Regions from separate parts of the Homo sapiens genome. Here region 2 is linked to region 1. The links come from fine-mapping of genetic effects on gene expression. A gene starts in region 1. The other region holds a variant in brackets. All regions are shown on one strand. Distances are from middle to middle.

Region 1 (10,391 bases):
TGGCCGGAGAAATTGGCAACATTTGCTACGAATAAAACCCAAGCGTTTCCAGCAGCCATTTTGAATTAAGTTTCCCACCCGACAAGCCCTCGTCCCCTCCACTGCACATCCAGGATCCGGTGGAGGAGAAAGGCGCCGGGCGGAGAGTTGGGGAGGGCTGGTTCCTGCGGGTTCCTCCTAGGCGGCCGCGCGAAGCCCAGGCTCGGGGGATCTCGGTGGCAGGCGCTCAGCTAACTTGGGGAAAGGACGTCCATGGCCGTGGGGCCGACTGTCAACGGGCTGCACCTAGGGATCCCAACCCCAAGGCCCTCGGAGAGCCGGGAGGCTCCTCCTCAGCTCCACGCACATTCCCCTCCCTTCGCTGATAGCCCCCACCGCCCCCCAAAGAAAGTTCCTTCAAATGTTCCTGCAGTAGAGCCTTTCATTTTGTCTCTGCGAAGTGGCAAAGCAGCTAGTATTGCGAGGGGCCTAGATGTCGCTTGTCTCAGCCCATAAAAAAGAAAAAAAAAAAAAAAAGAAGAAGAAGAAGAAAGAAAGAAAAGCTTCTTCTAATGCCCAAGGAGGTATCTCAAGTCTTTTATTAGCTCTCACAGCTCAGCTGGGAATTTAACAGTTTGGGGTCCTTTACAAAGCTTCCCCAAATGTTCTGTCCCAGAGCCTAAACCACTTGTAGTTAACTCTGCGGACAGAACGGTGGGAATTAAACAAGCCCATCGCACAAGGGATCAGAAAATAAAATAAAAAGATTATATATATTTTTTTTTCCAGCGAGGGAGGGTCAGTGTGTCCTGATTTTTTAAAAATAAATAAATAGAAATAAAAGTTTCTGCAAAGTAAAAAGAGGTTCCCAAATTCATCGGCACACAGTAGGCACAAGTGAGTTTCAAAGGATTCTACTAGCCCAGGGTCTAATCGAATGGCGGAGGAGAAAGCAGTATAAACCGCAGCCAGAAAACAACCTCCGAGGAAGAGCACCCCGAATTTACTTATTTCTAAATCCTGCAGGTTTCGCCTTTGAGCACAAAGTGCTAAAACATCTAGAAGTTTCTTAATGTGTGTAACAATTCAGAGCAAGCTCCTCTCCTTGACTTCAGTGGTCAAACTCCCTAAATGCAAAACATGTTCCCCCTTGCTTGACCTGCAACTGTCCTGCTTTGGTTTTATTGTGCAGTGGCAGAGCCAGCATAAGGCTGCTGAGTAAACTCAGCAAGTCAGAACAATCAGTGGCTTAAAAGAGATTTTCCCTTAAACTAAAAGTTTCGTTACAACACAAAGGCGCCTGCATTTAGAAACCCCTAACGCTCTCGGGCGAAATCGAGCGAGGGAGGACTCCAGCCCGCTGAAGGAGTCTGAGAGGGGACAAGGGCCCTTTAGCCAGCTTCTTCTCATCTGGGACCCCCTTGCGGGCACTGCCATGGTGGAGCAGGGCACTGGATGTGCACAGAGTGTGTATGGGGATGTAGGGCTTCAGGGATGGCAGGCCACCTCCCCAAATTATCCATGAAATGTGAATGAAAAGTCACCAAAGATGTACCTCCAATCCAGAGAACTCTGACTTTCCTCTTACCAAGGGCACAGAGAAAGAGGGAAGCGTTGAGTCTCAACTACTTAACCTGCTGCCCATTGTACCTACCCATAAATGGCATCTTTATCTCTCTTTAAAGCGTCATTGACAGAGGAGCCCATGCTGGGGGCCATGGCGTTGGTATGAGCTGTGTGCGGGTACTGATGCGAGTGCAGAGGAGGCCCGTGGTTCAGGTGGTGGACCGGCTGCATGGACCTGGCTGCATGCGGGTCCCCATACATCGTGGAGGGGATGCCTACTCCATCCATGCCCCCGTAATGGGGTAGATCGTCGTACTGCATGACAAACAGGAGAGAAAGAAGGTTCAGGAGGCCAGGCGGGCAAATGGGAGAACGGCAAGGCACCGAGCTTATATAAGGTCAATACAGCTGGGTCCTTCCACCCGGAATTCGGTGGCCTTGCATCTATAAAGCTGAGTTTTTCTTATTTTAAAATTAAAGCTTTAAGTAAAAAATACAGAATTCTCAGCGAGACTCGTCTGGGATGAATGATCTTGCCCTAACTTGTGTCCCTATCAACTAGTTTAGAAATTCAGGCTCCTTTGGCAAGAAGGAAAGAAGAAAGAAAGAGAGAAAGAGAAGCATTCTCCCGAGGGTAGAAGGTGAAACGGGCATGTCTCTGGAGGAAGAAATTCAAAATCACAATAATAAAACGTGCCAGGACACTGCAGCAAACCCGCCTAGTTTCACAGCCCCTTCACATCAGGGGGAATTAAAAAAAAAAAAAAAAGTTACGATGGGAACAGCTACGCAAAGCACGTGAATTTAGACAGGCTTCTCATTTTATTTCCCTGCCAGCGTGAGGTTAGGCAGTCCTACAAGACACTGCATTTCTTTTGCTTTCCAAGACAAACTCTGCTAAATTATACAAAACTAACTGACCCCTTATAAGTGAAACTCAAAGGAGGGTAGCTTTTCCTGAACATCAGAGCTGAATTTAGAATTGGGCAATTCCCCACCCCCAAAGTTAAAGAAAATCTATAGTTGAAGCAGCTAATATTCTATTTTCTTATTTACTCTTATGAACTTTGTTTCCAGACTAGAAGTCAAGGAGGCAAATGTTACTCACCAGGTTTAAAGCAAATTCAAAAGCAAATGCACAACTTTCCATCTTCCTCTTCCAGAAAAAAAAAAAAAAAACTACTTTCATATTGATTGTCATTATTTTGTGTGTGTGAAATTTAGCTATTTAGGTTTTTCTAATTGGTTCATTCCAGGCAGTTATTTTCCCAAGATTTGGAGGCGCTGAGAGTGAAATGATTTTCAAAGAAAGGAGGAATTGCCACTTTCATCTCCTTAAAGCCAGAGGTGTGAAAAGAGTTTGGAAGAACGCTGACATTTGCCTGAACCAAAGGAGTAAAGAAAACTGTGTCAGCCTAGTAACTTTCTTTTGCAAACAGGGCTTTGAGGGCCAGGACACAAATTATGCAAGGAAGGCTTTTTGTAGACCCCCTTTCTTTTAAGAAACTACCTCAGTTGGGTTGTCATTGTCTCACTTTACTCTCACTGCATTTCCATTGAAAAAGGAATATGGGGAAATTAGTATTGCATTTTTAAAGTGAGTAACTGTGTGCTTAGTATTCAATTAGTAGAGGGCTTATCTAAGAGAAACTTGCAAAATATTGCCTTGTATACAAGTCTATACAAATTGAAATTACTATAAAAAGATGAATGTTTTCTGACCAAAAAATTGGCTATACTATGACAAAGTTATTTCCTTTAAAAAGCTGAATACTTCTAGTGATATTAAAGATGAGCATAATCAATAACATATCAGAAGTTTCCAGCTGCATATTTTAGTTTAAACATAACTTTAAACTTCTGATCTCTGAATGTTCAAATTACAGCTTTAGGTATCTAGCTTTTTTAAAAAAAAACCCAGATGATTGTTTGAGCTTGCATTTTTATTTATATAGCTGCTGGTTAGGAATCTATAGATAAATAGATTCCTTTAATTAACAACTCCAAGTAACATACATAAGTCTACAAATGCATTGAATAAATCCTCTCGCTTAGGCCACGGCTTTAGGAGCCTCATTTTTTAAAAGAGAGAGAGAAAAAAAGGAAACTTTTTAGCAGTGTCTTTCGGCCACGTTTCAATTTAATCTCACATTTGAGTTCCACAATTGTTTTTTAATACGTACCCTTTGCGCCATCGGCCTCTCTGGCTCCCTTCCTACTTCAACTTCTAATATATCCTCTTTAAGGCCAGTGTGAAAAGAAACAAATATTCAAACTCCCCCGGAAAAAAAAAAAAAAAAAAAAAAAAGCACGACGAAAAATCCCTTAACGTCTCCAGCAACGTGAGCTACTGGTCCCAGATCTTCGGTCTACGGGACCTGAAGCAAAGCGCCCGAGTCACTGAGCATAAAAGCGCTCCGTTTCCAAGACAGCAGCGGGGGCAAAAAAAAGCAGATCTTCTCTCCCCCAAAAATCAGTTTAAAAAAAAAAAAAGAAAGAAAGAAAGAAAAGGAAAAAAAAGAGCGCCCCTCAGACCCAACTACCAAATCTCATGGCTTTCTGCCACTCCAGCTGTCAATCACAGGCGAGGTTGTCAACGTGGTGAATGAATGATCATCCGCTCTGTCTTCTTCTGGTCAGAACACCTCAAATGTTAATATTCAAATGCACAAAGCCCTAGCGCTCGCTTCCCTTGAATCAGTCCTAATTCCTAATCAGTTTCTCTCTTCTCTCTCTCTCTTTCTTTCTCTCCCTCTCTCTCCCTCTTTGCAAGTGCTGCACTGGAAGGAGATTAGAGAAGGAGGGTTAAAAAAAATGTCTGTCTGAGTTTGTCTTAAAGGAGCCACGATCGATGCTGCCCGCTTGCAGTCCCCGTGCGTGTGTAAAGTGTGTGTTGCACAGGCGGAGAGGTGGATTCCGACCAGAATGCTAGAACCCGGAAGTAGTGGTGGCCATAACAGGTCGCGTCTTACACAATGCATTGGGCTGCAGCAAGTAGGCTCCTCGGCAGGGGTGGGTGCGCGAAGCGAGCTCTGGCCGCACTGGAGAGGCAGAGAGGCGCTCCATTAAATCGCACGCCCAGGCACAAACACCACACACCCAGGGCACACGCACACAAACGCAGGCAGTAGCCCGCGGCCGCCAGCTTTATTTTCAGTATTCTTTTCTCTCCCTCCCCCTGCAGACTCTCTCCCCAAAGCCGACTCTCTTGAAATAAATTGGGAATCAACGCCGGGCAGGCAGCAGCGGGAGTTATTTTGCACAGGGCTCCGCGCATAGACTTCATGACTTTCCTCGAAATTATTGGGGTCTGCCAGTGTTTTTCGGGGCAGGGGGTGATGCGCAAAGTACTGAATTCTCAGAACTAAACACTGCAAGGAGAAAAGTCAAAGCGGGATCGTGGAGGAAAAGGAGGGAGAAGCCAGGTTGGGAAAGCCTCTGCTAAGGAGTCCTGAGAACATGGGGTTGAGGTGGCTCGGGCTTTCTGCAGACCCAGCTTAGAGGTTTCTTTGCTGTTAGAGGTGGACGCCCGGCCGGGGGAAAGAAAATGCTAGCATTTTGTCACTTCGGGTCTGGACTCCCCCACCTCCTAGCCCCGGCGGCTCCCAGCCCCAGCCCAGGCGTCCTGCGCGAAGTAGAGAGGAAGGGAGGGAACAATGAGCTGAGCGCGGGGAATGTGCCCCCAGCGCCTGTTTACAAACACCAAGCTATTTATGATCGTCGGAAAGCGAAACCCGGCGCGGGCTCGCAGCAGCCCAGACCTCGCGGGCGGAGCCGGGGCCGGGGAGCCGCTGGGAGGGAGGCTCTTTCTCCGACCCGCTCGGGGTGAGGCGGCCGTGCGCCCAGGGCGCGGCGCGGCGCGGCGCGACGCTGCCGGAGTGCTAGGCTCCGGCTGCAGCCACCGCTGCCTTTGTCTTAGAGGCGCCGAGGGGCTCCAGCCTCGACCTCTCCCGGGCCTGTAAGAACCTCGCGCCCCACTAGCTCTTTCTCCAGCGAAGCCCTGCCCTCACCACCCCAGACATCCTTCCCCGCGCTCCTCTTTCCCGTCCCCAACCCGGCTCGGCGAAACCTCCCAGTGCCAGAGAAAAAGAAATCCGCTTCGGAAGCTGAGATTTCAGACAAAAGCTGCCTGTACCTACAACTCGGAGGCTCCAACCAACCACTGTTTTTTGTTTTGTTTTGTTTTTAACTTTAACACCTATTGCCTGGGCTTTAATTCCCCCTCACCCCTTCTCTTTATTCTCCCGCTCTAAGCTTCTCCCTTGTGATTATATTTAGTGGCGTTATTTTCGTATTTATATTTCTGTCCGCTGGGCTCTGATCTGCCGAGATGGCTCAGCCGCAGCAGCTCTACCAGTGGCTGGAAACCTCACATCCACAAGCAGGGCTCGCAGCTCGCTCGGCTCCGAGAGGATTTTTCCCCCTCCCTCCAGCTGAAACCTCGCAGAAAACTCCCCCTGCGGTCGACTGGAAAATGAGCTCACCCAAATCTCGGTAGGCAGCCGTGGAGGAGTGCTCGGCCAATCAGGAGGCGCCCCCGCCCAGGCCGCCGCGCATTGGCTGCGGGGAAAATCAATTATCAAATAATCGATCAGCAGGGAGCTTCGATCTGCGGGGAATGCGAACTGCCAGTCCCTATTCCCGCCCTGAAGGTGGCCAAAAGGCTGACTCCCTCCAAGCAGCCCGCCCGCGCCTCCATCGCCCCCACCCACGTCCCACTCGCCAGCTGCGGACTGAACCCTCACCCTCAAGGGGGTGTAGGTAGGGAAAGAGTTTTGAGCAAGATTGGGGGTATCCCTTCATCCGAAGATTGTTTGGGAAAGGTTAGGAGCTCTAAAATGTATTGAAGCCAACTCTTAAGCGCAAAGTAAAAGATAATTTGCGTCCGTCTGCGAGGTAGGACTGAAGATTCTATAGAGTGGGCTTCCGAGGAGCAGGAGACACAGGGCGAGCATGAGAACATAGGTCTGGAATGAGGTTCCACCGAGCGTCCGTAGTCTCCTTAGGCGACATCTATCGCTTCCTTTAGCACTTCGCAGGAGTCAACGCGGGGTTGGTTGCCCCCAACAGTGGAGCGTTTCCATAAAGCCGAGCAGATGAGCCTTCCCAGCCGCCTGCACTGCACCCTTCCCCGCCCCCAACTCCGTACTGGCACCCTGTGTGCCTGAAGGGCTGACACACGTTCTCCCAAAACCTTCAGAAGCGCTTTGCCTTGAAAGAGCTCTCCCTCGTGTGTGTGTGTGTGTGTGTGTGTGTGTGTGTGTGTGTGTGTGTGTGTGTGTGTTTAAACCATCTCCAGGATCCCTTATCATTTGCTTCCTCTCTCCTTTTTCTCTCTGTTTCTCCCTGTCTTTTTTCTGACGCTTAAGTTTCAGGATCTTTTAGTTTTTTTCCATCACATACATGTGTAGGTTTTCTGGTACAAACGCCCTGAAACATCACTTGGGAGGTTAAGACAGGCCCGCGAGTAAAAGCTGGGGACGGAGTGGGTGGGCAGCCAGGTGCATTACCAGCGCCTTTATGCCTCTGCCTACACTTCCCGGCCTCCCCCCATCCCCCCACCCCCCCACCCCACGCCTCACCGTCGCTCCCCGGCCCCACAACATGAACTTGGAAGCAGAATTTCAGGCCAAGATGGAACCTCCCCGTCTCAGGAAGGCGATTTCTGTTTAATCCTTGGGAGGCTGCGCTGGCTGGGCCAGGCAGCACGCTCCTTTTCCGATTAGGGAAAGGACTAAGCTGGGCCGGCAGTCTGCGACCCCTTCCCGGAACCCCAGCCGACTTCGGGGTATACCTGAGCGCCTTCCGATGGCTGCTCGCGGGGGTGTGATCATCGTCCCCGCATCAGGCCCGCCAGGCATCTGCGCGACTCGGGGGTAGGAGGGAGATGCGTGGGTGGGAGGTGGGGGTCAAACCAAACACCGACAGGGCACACCTACGTTTATGATCCTTAAATGAACTGCGAGGGAAATTGTGTAAGTATAATTTAACTGAGAGAAATTTATTGCGAAATACGCTTAGAGGACTGTGGTCTTTAACAGCCTCAGGGGTTCTTCGGCAAAGAGGTAACGGGGCTTGGATTTACCACAACTCTGCGGCCACGTTTTCAAATTTGGAAAAGGTCAGTATATATATATATATATATATTTGACAACAGGATTTATTTTGTATTGTTGCTTTCCGGTAATCTTTTTCTTTTGTTTTCTAGCACAGATGAGAAAAGAAGGTTCAGGTAAGTCACCCTTTGCAAACATAACCAAAATCTTCAAAGCAGGAGGAAGACTAGACGACTGCATGCTTTAACCATGATGTGCCAGATTACCTTAAAAATGTACTTTAAATTACCTACACACAAATTTTCCTTAAAGAATGAGATAGTTTGAGTTTGCGGACTTAAAATCAACTCAGTAGTTTTGAAAAGTGCCCCTCCCCCCCCCCACAGTCTTTCCATTTTAAACTGTGAACCTAATATAACTTCTAGGCCTTTATACAATTAATTCTGAACAATCAAGGGACTAAACACTTTTACAATGTAATTACAGTAGTACAAATTGTTTGCCCAAACCTCATTCTGGATAAGGATTTTACAATTAGCAAACAGTTATTACAGTTGGGGCTTGCTGAGAGAAATTGCACAGAGGATGTCTAGAGTTGCAATATAGTAGCCATAAAAAAAAAAAAAACTCCTTTAGCAGGGCAGCAATTAATCATCTATTAAAAGGAAACAAATGAAGGGACAGGTCTAGGTATCTTAGTAAACTACTGTCAATATTTATGCCCATTTTTTGACAGCCCCTATTCCTAACTTATTTCAGATACTTGCTTTTTTAAGGCAATAGCACTTTTATTTTGCAAAAACTTGGCCTGGTGAAAACTTCTGGCACTTGGCCCTAGCTCTTGCGATTCAGGCCTTCCGTTCTCTTCTCATCCTTCTTATCTCAGAGCATCTTTCCAGAGATAGAGAACGGTGACAAAAGGAGGCAGACTGGGCCCTTGGTCTCTATTGTTTACACCCTCCTGTATGGAGGCATTTCAAGCCCTCAGTGCTCCTCTGAGCTGCTGGTAAAGTCGTCTCGGAGAACTCCCCTGACTTTATGTTCTATAAGGAATTGTGCTTCTGGAAAGATCTATATCCTAAATTAGGCTTTTGTCCCAAAAGGTCACACTGATGAGTCAGCTCCAAAACCCTTAGAAACTAAAGAGGCACCTCTTAAGGTAAAACGTGTGTGTATTTGCCAGCCCAGAATAAACAAAAGCCTGTTAATCAATCGAGTTTGGCAGCTGTGTTCACAAAATGATAAGGGTTTATCATTTGCCACCAAACTTTAAGATGTCCCTTAAAATGCTGTGATTGGTTTTTAGGTTGTCCTGTGGTGTGGAGGCTTGGCGTTTGTATTTCAAAAACATTCATCCTCTGCATCTCTCCCCCTCACTAGCATTGACATTTCAAAAAAACAGAAATAAGAGGAGGGAGGGAAAGATAGTTTAAAGAAAATAGATTCGAAATCTAGTACAGATAATAGAGGAATGCTGGAGATAAGAGCCTGGAGGTGATATGAGAAAGGCACCAAGAAGTCAAAGCTAATGAATGGCTGTGAGAAAAGTGAAATAAACTATTGAGAGATCTATTAAAGGGGGAAACCTGGTTAGGTGATATCAAAGGGGGTTAACTGAGAGGATTAGGGAGGATGTTAATCAAGTGCTCTAAAGCATTACAGGCTATAAGGACTGAAAGATTTGTTTACTGCATTTTGCTTCAGAAAACAAAGAATGTCTGGGTCCAGTTCAGAAGTCAATTAGAGGTCAGCTTAGGCTCTCCAAGGGTTGCAGGGAAAATACCTAAGTTACTATATTCTGACTGGATGATGCAAAAATTAGGGAAAAAAAATGGGGGGTGAGAGGGAGGTGCTTTCCTTACTATTCTATTTCAAATCATTAAAATGCTTTGGTCTCTAGGGGGGAAAAAACTACACTGGTTAACATAATTACTAGCTCTGACATTTTCAGAAGTTATAGAGGTCTTTTATTAATTAAATGGAGGGCTTAATAAAGTATTCCTAATAAAATTTATGGTTGTCTTAAAACTTTCTAAACAGTGCTATAAATTCTTAATAAAATTAACTGGGAAATGAGTTATTAGCCCACACTTTACCCTCCCCCCCAAACTGCTACATAAGGAGTGTCTGCAGAATGAAAAGGAAATAGAAGCCTTTTAGTAAAATATAAATATTAGCCAAAGTCATGCATTGCTCTGAAAGAGGCAAAGTCCCAACTGTTGTTTCTACTGGCCTCATTCTCCAATATCCCCCAAAAGCTATCCCACAAAACTTCATCAAGAGAATTTATTCCCCTTCCCAAGTACCTATTATATATGCATTTATGTGTAAGTGCATTTGAAATACAACCTTCAATTTTGTGGACTGAGTTGTATGTTAAATGTAGTAAAAAACATAGATGCATCATGCAAAGTTCCGCTATAGAATCTTCAAGTCTCACGGTGCAAATACTTTCTTTATTTTTAATTAAAAATAAAATGCCCTGTAATTTCTCTCACTTTAATTTCTATAAAGATAACTTTTAAATGATAAATTTCTAAATAACATTTTTCTCTGAAGTTATTTAAAAGTGTATTTTCTGAAGCAACATTTTGTTGACATATGCAAAACCTTTTTATATCATTACGTTTCAAAACTTTTAGTGAGTTATCTTAAGTTTTCAGGTACTTCACTGCTTCACAGATACAATGCTGGCTGGTTAGCTATTTTAAAGAAGATCACACACATACACTTCAAACCACAGCAGCCTTGGTGAATTGTTTAGCATTTGAAGGCTTGATCTTTTGTGCC
Region 2 (10,391 bases), 63 kb before region 1:
GGGAAGCCATGTGTTTCTGAACACGTCAAGTTTTTCCACAGGAATTGCAGTGACAGTAAATGAGTTCTGTGGATGTAACACAATGAGATACAAGTAAGAGATCTAGGCTGTATGTATATAAACATCTGTATGTATATCTAGGTCATTCACAATTTGAGTATTTATAAGTCAGGGATTTCCACCCTGTTGAAATAAATGTGGAATAACTTCTTTACTATAAATAATTCATTCAATTAAGCTTCTATCACTTCACTTTCAACATAAATAATGTATAAAACATAACTGGGTGAAAAACATGGAAAGAAATCAAATAACTGAGACCCAGAATGAAAATATTTACTAGGTTTTCATAGAATGAAAAAAAAAAATTGACAAAATGTGAATGTGCATTGGATGGGATTAAAGGAAGATAGCAGACTTTCTACATTCATAAAAATTAAGAATTGTCCGTTGGAGTTTGTCAGTGTTCAGATTTATAGTTTACTTAAGATTTATTTTATGTAAGTGTTCATAGAAGTAAAGTACCATGGACACATACAACATACACCAGGAAATTGGATAAATTTTCCAAGTTTTTTTTTTTTTCTGAATCATTTTACTTTGTTCTTTTGAGATAGGAATACCTTTTCCTAGTAATTCAATATTACTTTTTGACTTGAATTCCCCTCAGGGGAACAACAGCAAATTGGTTGCCTACACACAGAGGACAAACAGCAATGATGAATAGGAAAGAAAAAAAAAACACAGATTTTACTCATTTTTCATCTATTCAGCATTTTTTTTTTACAACTAAATGCCCTGAAAAAATCCCTGCAAAAACAGCATAACTTTTTAATGGAGTCTTAGAAACTTCAGGATGTGAGTACACTGCAAAATATACTGAAATCTATACATTTACATTATTGGTAAAATAAAATGGAAATCCCCCAATCTTTTTCTCAGGAAATAAAGAGTATTTTCTTTATTTTTATATTTGCACTTTCAAGTGCAAAGGTAAAACAGTACAAAAGTCATAAACTTTTATTTTGAATCAACAGCTTAGAAAGAATTTTCAGAACTAGTACCTTGCCTATTTTTTAAAATTATTTTAATAATGCTAGTTCATTACTCATAATATGCTCCCCAAAATACATATAAATGCTCTATTAATGAATGGTCATAAACTCCTACATAACCACAAAAATAGATCATTTTAGGAAAAAAAGTACCCCATATAGGATCTCACAGACAGGCAGACACACATACACACACATATGCTCACACAAACACAAATACACACACAAACACACAAAGACAACATTTATTTTTGTGATATCTGCAAAAGCTTGCTATGTAATTTAGTTTTAAACTTCTATATTACTCTGCATATGTATTTGCTATGCATGTATATATGTGTGTATATACAAACACTTTTACACAACAAGATAGCATTTATTTATCTGAGGTCACTTTTTCAACAAACTCAATTAAATAAAATACACTTGAAAAGCAGGATTTGAAAAATAAAAAAGCTGGCCGGGCACGGTGGCTCATGCCTGTAATCCCAGCACTTTTGGAGGCTGAGGCGAGCAGATCACTTGAGGTCAGGAGTTCTAGACCAGCCTGGCCAAGATGGTGAAACTCTGCCTCTACTAAAAATACAAAACTTAGCTGGACGTGGTGATGCATGCCTGTAATCCCAGCTACTCGGGAGGCTGAGGCAGGAGAATCCCTTGAACCTGAGAGGCGGAGCTTGCAGCAAGTGGAGATCGAGCCACTGCACTCCAGCCTGGGTAACAGAGCGAGACTCCATCTCAATAAAAAATAAATAAATAAATAAAAATTTAAAAAGCTTTCTGACATCCAGATTAGAAGGAGTGCTTTTCAACATGGGCTACATTTAAATCATGTGGTAGCTTTTACAAATCCTGATGCCTACACTGCACTCAAGACCAATTAAATCAGTTTGGGAGGTGGGGTAAGATTTCAGCATTAGTGACTGTTAAAGCTCCAAGTTGATTATAACATACAGCCAAGCTTAAGAACCAATAGATTACAATCATAGATTATATGTGGTAAAGCTCGTATACTTTCTACAGAGAAATGATCATAAGACCCTCAATTGAAGAACAGTTACATTTAATTTAGATGCAGTTCTCAAGTTTGCTCATCTAGCTTCTGGCCTCATAGTTTGTAGGCTGAGAGCTTTGTAAAAGTATAAGATGATAAAGAGGCAAAAGACAAGAACCTAAAAGGCATTGCACACAAGGCCCTTTTAGCATAGGAAAAAAAGCCATATAAATGCTTAACAGGCTGTGTAAATAAGGAAATATATAGCACAGTGCATAAACTCATATGTCCACTGACTTTAAATTATTTTTTAAGTGTTATAATCAGATATGAGAGAGTTATGTATAGAGTGGAAACATTTTCATCAAGAATGTCCCTAAAAGTTATAATATTTAAAAAGGTACAATTCTGTTCATCCGGACCACATCTTTCCTGATTGACACACCAGGATAACATGTCTGTATTCTGTAGAAGCTTTTTTTTTTTTTTTTTAACCTATGTACCCTCACTTCACTGGTCTGTGTGGCTAGACAGACCAGAGCCTCCACAGCAATGAGCACTATGATTCGGCTACATGGGTTGCAACCAGTCCACTGTCTGGCTCTCCCTGTCTTCCTGGGAATCTTCTCTCAAGGCACTCTCCTGTTCATCCCTCACTGATGCCTTTCTATTCTGCTTTCCTGTAAGAAGGTGTGGGGGAAGGTAAAGTGCAGGAAGGGCAGCCTGAGAGCTAATGATAGAGAATGAGGGATGAGAGAGTCCATCCTAGGATCAGGCAGAAGTTGGAGGGAGAGGAAATGCCAAGGGTCAGGGGGAAAAAAAGAGATGCTATTCTGTCCAGGTAGATTTCTTTGCAGACAAAGTGAAGTGGAAGAAGATTGTGAAATGTAGATTAGCAAGTGTGTGGGGAGAACAGATATTAAATATAGCTAGAAGAAAAATGTGCAAGAAAGAAGTTGGGATGAAAAAAATAAAGACTTGTTATTCTCTTACTGCAAATCTATCTGAAAATCCAATCGTTTCTGAAAACGAAGGTTTGAGAATTACTAGCATGCATCAGTGATTGCATCTGACCTTCTCTCCTTTGATTATCTGAGGCTACAGTTCTTTTGTGAATTTGTAGTGCCACTCACACCTTCCACTCGGTTAGTCAGGGACGTAGGCTTGTTTGAAAATAATCGTACTTCACAAAGTTTGATTACTTTGGTGGGCACAGTAAAGATAAAAGTAACTTTCTAGAGCAGTGCTGCTCAAACTTTCATGTGCATACGAAACAGCTGGGATCTTGTTAAAATGCAGCTTTAGATTCAGTAGGGAGGAGCTTGAGATTCTGCATTCCTAACAAGCTCCCAGGGACTGCCGAGGCCACACTGCCAGTCCAAGGACCACACTGTGCATCTTAACAAGGTTCTGGAGAATCTTCCCCTCCAGGCAAATAAAGCTAGAAAGTGTGCTGGGTGCACATGAATGCCTCACTGAAGTGGGACGTGGGGACAGCCTCCAGTCACTCCAGGCCAGGAAGACTGTAGCTGCGCCCACTGGACAAGAATGGGACAAGGCTACTCTGAGCCCCATTTTGAGTAGGTGACCTCATGGGTATCTCTAAGACTAACTGACCTATCAGAACAAGCCAGGATGAATCCCAGCTCCTCCTGTTAGCACTGCAGGCCTCTCTCCCCTTTATCTCCTCAACCTGTATAATACCTCACTTCTTGCCTCCTATGTTGGAGGTATTACAAGAGAATAGCTTAGCTTCTTGGGTTCTTTGTCTGGGCTCATGTAAATCCCAGCTTTACCACTTAATAGCTGTGTGACCCTGGGCAAGTTATTTAACCTCTCCAAAGCCCCGTTTCACCCCTCTGGAAACAATGAACCTAGTAATAGTACTTACACCTTAGAGTTGTGGGGCAGATGAAATAAAATCAGCTATATAAAAATGTTTCGCGCATCGTTTGGCAGCAGTGGCTTAGCTCAGCGAATGTGAGTTCTTATGTTTGTTTTGCTAGTGAGTACACCATTTGAACAGGGGAACATTAATCTGAATCCCCCACTCAAAGCTCCAAAATGACCATTGCTACTCTTGTCACCTCTCCCCATCCCATTCCCATTCCTAGAAGTCTTTTCCAAAATATCTATACCCACTCTCCTAACATGGCATACCATTTTTTTTCTATTGTTTTCTTTTTCTTCCCCCACAGCCCCCCAAAAAAAGCCTTGTAAAGTGACTTGGAACTTTGCAAGTGTGCTTCAGAGTAACA[A/G]TGGGTGGCAGTGCTGCCTAAATAGTCCCATCACATTAAGCTGGCAGCCAATTGGTGGATGAGGATACATTGGAAAGCAATTTTTACTAGTACAAGTTTTCATTTCCCACACAAAATAGGTTAATTTATGATAACTCACCCTCTGCCTTCTAAATAATATTTCTGCAGCAGTTTTAATTTTTTATGTTATTCATCTTATTTTAGAGATGGAGTCTCACATGTTGCCTGGGCTGCTCTCGAAGTCCTAAGCTTAAGCAAATCTCCTGTCTCAGCCTCCTAAAGTGCTGGAATTACAGGCATGAGCCACCATGCCAAGCCTCTGCAGCAGTTTTTAACAGCAAAGATTTTTGTTTTACTGATAAGGAAAAAAGTTATATCATTTAAGAAAGTATCTTTCAGATCCAGGAAAAGTGAGACACACTACCGAAAAACAGGACTAACTTTCCATCTCTTCTCTAGACAATAAGAATAATAGAAACAGTACTAAAAACTAACATTTATTGAGCACTTACTAGATACCAGAAACTGAGATTGGCATTGATCTTTGATCAATTAATTCTCACAATCCTTGCTTTTCTGAAGTATCTCATTTAATCCTTTGAATGTCCCTAATGCACAGATAAGGAAATAGGCTGCTATACAGATAAGGAATACAAATCCTTGTGGATTCAACCCAGATCTGACTTGAGGCTAAACTCCTAACCATTCTACCACTACCCTTTCCATTTACTCCATTAGAGACAATGATAATGATCAAGGTGCATTTCTTTAACCTCTAGAAAGGTATCTGAGGGTAGAGACAGTCCTTTCTTATTGCTGTATGCTCTCCACAGCCAGCACATGTCTGACCCATAAAGTGAGTTCATAAACCTTCCCTGAATCTTATCCTTTTTACTGAAGGCAAAGAAAAAAGAGACACCGAAGCATGTACTCTCAGAGTAGCATGTGAGTGTATCTTAGTCAAAGTTAAATATAAAAACCACCCCTGAAATGTACAAGGAAGAAAACAAATACCAAGTATTTACAGATCCAGAGAAAGTTCACAAGAATGGGAGGATGCCAGTTCCAATGCTTTGTAAAGTCAAAAATAGCCACATTGCAAAACAAACAAAAAAAAACGAGAACGTTCCCGAGTGTGCCTCCAAAACATAAAGGAGAAAATCATACAGAAAAACCTCATGTAAGGGTTGGAACTTGAGCAACCAGCTATCCAAATACAGAGGGGAATCCTCGCTTAGCTAGGGCATGGCCTGAGAGAAGCCCCTTCCTGCTTTCAGAGCCTACAAGTAGTCCCCAGTGAAATGACAAAAATGCCCATGCCTAGGACATAAAGAAGGACAAAGCAAACATTTCCCAGCATCACGCAAATGGTTTTCAAGTATCGCTCCACGTCAGGAATCTGAAATTCTGCTAATAGAAAAGTTATGAGGCAATTGCCCTCTCCTGAGACCCCCGTGCACACTATGAAATTGGGCAATTCACACTGACCAGGCCTGGTCAGGCTGCTCGACCAGAGAAGAGCAAAAAAGAGACCAAGCTCACAGGAGAGTTACTTTTCACTCACCATTTATGTATCAAAGAAAAGCAAGTCTCCCCTGCAGGAGGCATACGGAAACACAAACAAGGCTGCCTCCTGAATCACCAGCCTGGAGTAAAGAACAGTCACACACTGCCCCCCACGCCCGAGGGGAGGGGAGAGGTTTTCAGTGATGACGTCACAGTGTGCTAACCTGAAATCTATCTTGGGTGAGAAAGAAGTCACAGAAACCAAGGAATTACTTCCTTCTCTGCTCTTGGTCCTCTTCTGGATCTAGTCTTCTCTCCAACATCAGCTGGCTGGGAATCTCTCTTCCCCTCCCCTGGCCCAGCCCTTTCTTTCCCCAGAACTGAATACTGCTCTCCTGTGCTGCCAGCTGGAGGGATGATCATCTCTTCCCAAACAGATCTCCGAATACCAATCGTAGGCCTGCCTGACTTCTGAATTGGCCTGTGGCCTAGAATTCCTTCTTGCTGGCCCCACCTACCAGACTGGTTATGCCGAAATGCCCAGGCCTGAACTTGCTACACTCTTTGGGTGCTAGATCTTGAACCACCCAGCTGCCTGCACAGCGGCCAATTTCTAGATCCAGATTAGGTGCTCCAAACCCTCATCACTCTTAACAGTGGGGGTGTTTCTGCCCTGTCTCAGCCTCCTCTTGCTGCTCAGTGGCTCTGTGTTGCTGAGGTTCTAGCACATCTTCAAAGCCTCAGCGTTTCCTGCATTTTCCTCATCTGCCATGCAAAACTGGGAAAGGGCCCCAGATCGCAGCCATTCAGATCCAGGTGGTCTATGAGAGTATAATTTACATGCTAGATACCAAAATATGGTGTGGGAAACACAACTGTCCCCTTGTTTCTCATTTATACCCAAAGAACTCTTTCTTCCAGAAACATCTCTGAAGTAACTCTCCATAAGTCAGGCATCTCTGTTATATTTGGGGCAATAAGTTCCCCCTCCTGTAATGGAGATAGCTTAAGGAAAGAGCAAGTACTAGCACAATCTAATATGATGAAAAAGACCGGAAGTTGAATGATGGATCACTGCAGACCCAAAGCTGGATGTCCGTCTTCTCTCTTGTCAAAAGACGTAAGTATGATCAGGGTAAAAAAAATACATAACCTTTAAGAATCACAGTGTGAGGAAGATGATCTCCAGCAGAAAAGCCTAAAAACTTTAAAAGTATGAAATGTGACTAGTTTGGATGAAAACCAAAATTATAAAAACTGGCCTGAGTGATCATGCTAATTGCCTGTCTTCTAGACTTGCTTCTTTTCCTTAGTTTAAAAAAAAAAAAAAAAAAAAAAAAAAAAGGTCAGAAGAGGGAAAGTGGGCATTCTGAATCTGTGCTTAGGCTATGTGAATGTGGAATGATTGTTCCATGTCTTCTGAAACCTGGCTGTGAACCAGGGGCAAATTTCCAGATGGTCAAACAGTAATTTCGCAACACCGGGCCACTATTTCTCGTCTTTCCAAGTTCCCCTACTTCCCCAAACATATGCATTCATGACTAACCTTAAGGTCAGAACCTGGGTCCTCAGTCTCAGGTCGGTCTGGGTACTCTTCATGAAGTGACTCAATTTGCTGAGCCTTCCTTCTTCTACCCACAAAGACGTGATGGTGATAAGGAACTGGCTAATTCAAAGGGGTGTTATGAGGAACAAGCGAGATCATATATGTGAAAGTTCTTGGGAAAACATGAAGTACTGTAAAACATTCCCTGACTATGGGAGAACTTCCTCCGGGATCCTCCAATACAGAGGTAGGTGCATTTTCCATGTGCGAATTATAGCTGATATTACACCACCTTTACACGGCCTGTTTATATGCAGCATTCCTACCAGACTATAAGCTCTTTGAGCATAGTAAATGAGTCTTGTTCAGTATTGTATTTCCTCAGGGCCTGGTACTAGCAGGCAGTTGGAGTTTGTTAGATGAATAGCAGATTGAGATAATAAATTTCTTTAGAGTAATACAGTGGTTTGTGGGAAGGGGAGGCAGTAGAAAAATACCTTTGCCTTTACAGCTTTCGTTTCTCTACAGAAAAAAAGTTAAGTGTCTTACCCTGAGTTTTTCCATATATGCGGAATAGACAGAATTCATTATAAGAAAACTTTAACAAAGAATTTGGTCTTGCATTCTAGAGGTTTGCTAACTCTTCATTTCTACACGGGGAGAGCTATTACATATGGAACAAGTGATCGATTTGTTGATTCAACTGATTGAAAGGAGTGAGAAGGCTGAGAACAACTTTGAGATCATGCCACTCTTTTTTTGTCACAAGTGAACTGATGAAGTATGATCTTCACTAGTCAGATTAAACTTATATTTCTATACAGCCCATCATACCACCACCTATATATGCTGAAGATAAGACTTTTTTTTCAGGAAACAATTAGATGGCTAAAGAATCATTCTTAGACTAAATTCTGCCCATATTGCCACCAAATGAAATACAGACAGATCACTCAGTTCTCATATTCTCTTTCTCTCTCTGTTTAAATGGGTCTGATTAAGTGATGCATGGGTCACTCAGAGTAAAAGCAATTCAAATGATCATTTTACATGTAATGAATAACATCTTTTTTTAAGCTGGCTTTATTTATTAGAAAGTACATTAGAGAACATACGATAGTGGGCTGTGTGGTTTACTTATAGGGGAGTCATAATGTGCAGGAAAAGGTGGAGTCAGACAGTTAGGAACATTTTGTTCCTGCTCATTTGTAATAAATGGAAATTAACATCATAATAAGTGGATATTCTATTTAAGCACATCACAGAGAATATAGGAAGAGTAATTACAACTTCTTAGCTAATTTTATTATTATTGATATGATGATGGAAGAAAACCAAGATCATTTTCTAAAGATATAGTTAGCTGAAAGGGATAATTCATTTATAAGGAAATAACACTAATAAAAATATTAATGAGTCTTAAATTCCTCAGTCCTTAAGACAACTCAGGGTCCAACACATAACTAAAAAATAAGGTGGAAATATTATAGTTAGGAAGCTAGCAAGGCTTCATGTTAAACTGGGAGAGGGTAAATAACTATAGATAGAATCATAATATGCGTCCTTATCCAAATGTTAACTATATTACTGGAAGAGTACCAGAGAAATGAGAAGGGGCTTGAACCCAGATTTAGTTCCAATTTATGCCTTCAAGATAAGACTATGGAAAAAGTAAATGCCAGCATTTCCGCAAATTACAGCTGCCTTAAAAACTTTACCGTATAGCAGCTGATATCTTAAGCAAACTAGTGTTATAGAATTTAAAGTTTGAATATCATGGGTCATATCTTTATGTGTTTGTTTTTGCTATATGTTATTTGTTGCCAAGCAACATGGTCCCAAAGTCCGCCCCTCAAATTTAAAGGCCACCTGAGTGGGGTATCAGCTTCCTCTGACTTCCCTTTATGAAGGTAGGAGGTCTACCTGTGTGGGCATGGGTGCTACAATTTATCTAAGAGTAAGGGTGCAGTAACAGGCCCCAGATGTGTTCAACAGCATAACTAAGAAGATGCAACTCTCATTAAAGCAATGAGACAAACTTCCAGTGTCCTGAATAAAACAACAAAAAAAGAGTTGTCCAACTGATTTATTCCAAATGACCCAGAGCCACTTTGTAACCACACTTTTTCCTAGCACCCATGTGGAATACCTGTGCATCAGAATGGAACAGCCAGATCTGCACAAACAACCAAGGACTTCTCAGGGGCCTCTGCTGTAGGAGTCTCCAAGAAAGAACAAGCTGAATACTCAACTCAGAATCAGCTGAAGACTTGCACAAAGAAACAAGCTTTTGCATACTCCTGACATCCTTCTCCTTCTGAAACCAGCCAGATGAGAGCAACAGCTTTCTTAGCTTAGTTGCCCAGGAGGCAGTTTCTCCAGTGCAGGGTAGAGAGGGCAGCCAAGTGAAAGAGTTATCGACCATGTGTGTGCTGAGTTCAGTGCAGCAAACCAAGCTGAACTGAGACTTGAGACCTCAGCATCCACCCAGAGTCTCAATCTAGCAATCTGCTAAGGAGGTTTGAATCCTGTACTCACAGGCCCAAACAATCTGCAGGCACATTCTATTTTCCAACTTCTACGGAACATGTGGAGTTGTGTCTATAAGCACGGTGACAGTTCACACAGACGGAAAGGTTCATGGCTGCCTGGTCAGCTGTCTGTCTCATCTGTTCTTGTAGGACTGCAAGGGTGTTCATGAAGACTCTCCAGTATGCATGTAATAGAGGAACCCCCTCTAGCCCCCCTCCACTAGGAATTCCTCGCTCACACCCACACATGCAAGCAGACACACACACACACACACACAAGTGAACGCTCACACTTTTCCTGTTTTAATTAGCTACTGTTCCATAAATTTTAATTCCCTGTACTACCAGTGATTGATAACAGATTCCTTATTAAATATCTACAATAAACTGTACTTTCACAATGCTGTGTGTATTTTAGCACAACAGAAGTTCCCTTTGAAAAGAATCATTTGGACGGTGCTAATAATTTTCTGGGTGCAGCTGTCCTTATATCATGCAATA

What was found.
Region 2: its variant is fine-mapped to the expression of MEIS1 in whole blood (TOPMed, PIP above 0.99). The same link has a PIP of 0.9 or more in blood mononuclear cells.

Annotation. Positions count from the first base shown.
Region 1 is chr2:66,429,206-66,439,596 of GRCh38, reverse strand. It overlaps MEIS1 (Meis homeobox 1), which reads right to left and starts at 4,472. Exons shown (of 13, transcript NM_002398.3): 1 at 3,729-4,472; 2 at 1,634-1,860. The coding sequence starts at 3,740. MEIS1-AS3 (MEIS1 antisense RNA 3) reads left to right here and starts at 6,127. Exons shown (of 4, transcript NR_046438.2): 1 at 6,127-6,306; 2 at 7,587-7,666; 3 at 7,759-7,777. It overlaps MEIS1-AS2 (MEIS1 antisense RNA 2), which reads left to right. Exons shown (of 2, transcript NR_046625.1): 2 at 1-510. RefSeq lists enhancers at 1-156, 4,513-4,612, 4,200-5,076, 5,946-6,298, a promoter at 4,174-4,714 and a silencer at 5,321-5,420.
Region 2 is chr2:66,491,847-66,502,237 of GRCh38, reverse strand. All of the region lies in intron 7 of MEIS1 (Meis homeobox 1), which reads right to left. Among named protein-coding and RNA genes, the nearest start is that of MEIS1-AS2, 57 kb to the right of the region's middle. The variant A/G (reference allele first, on the strand shown) is at 4,308.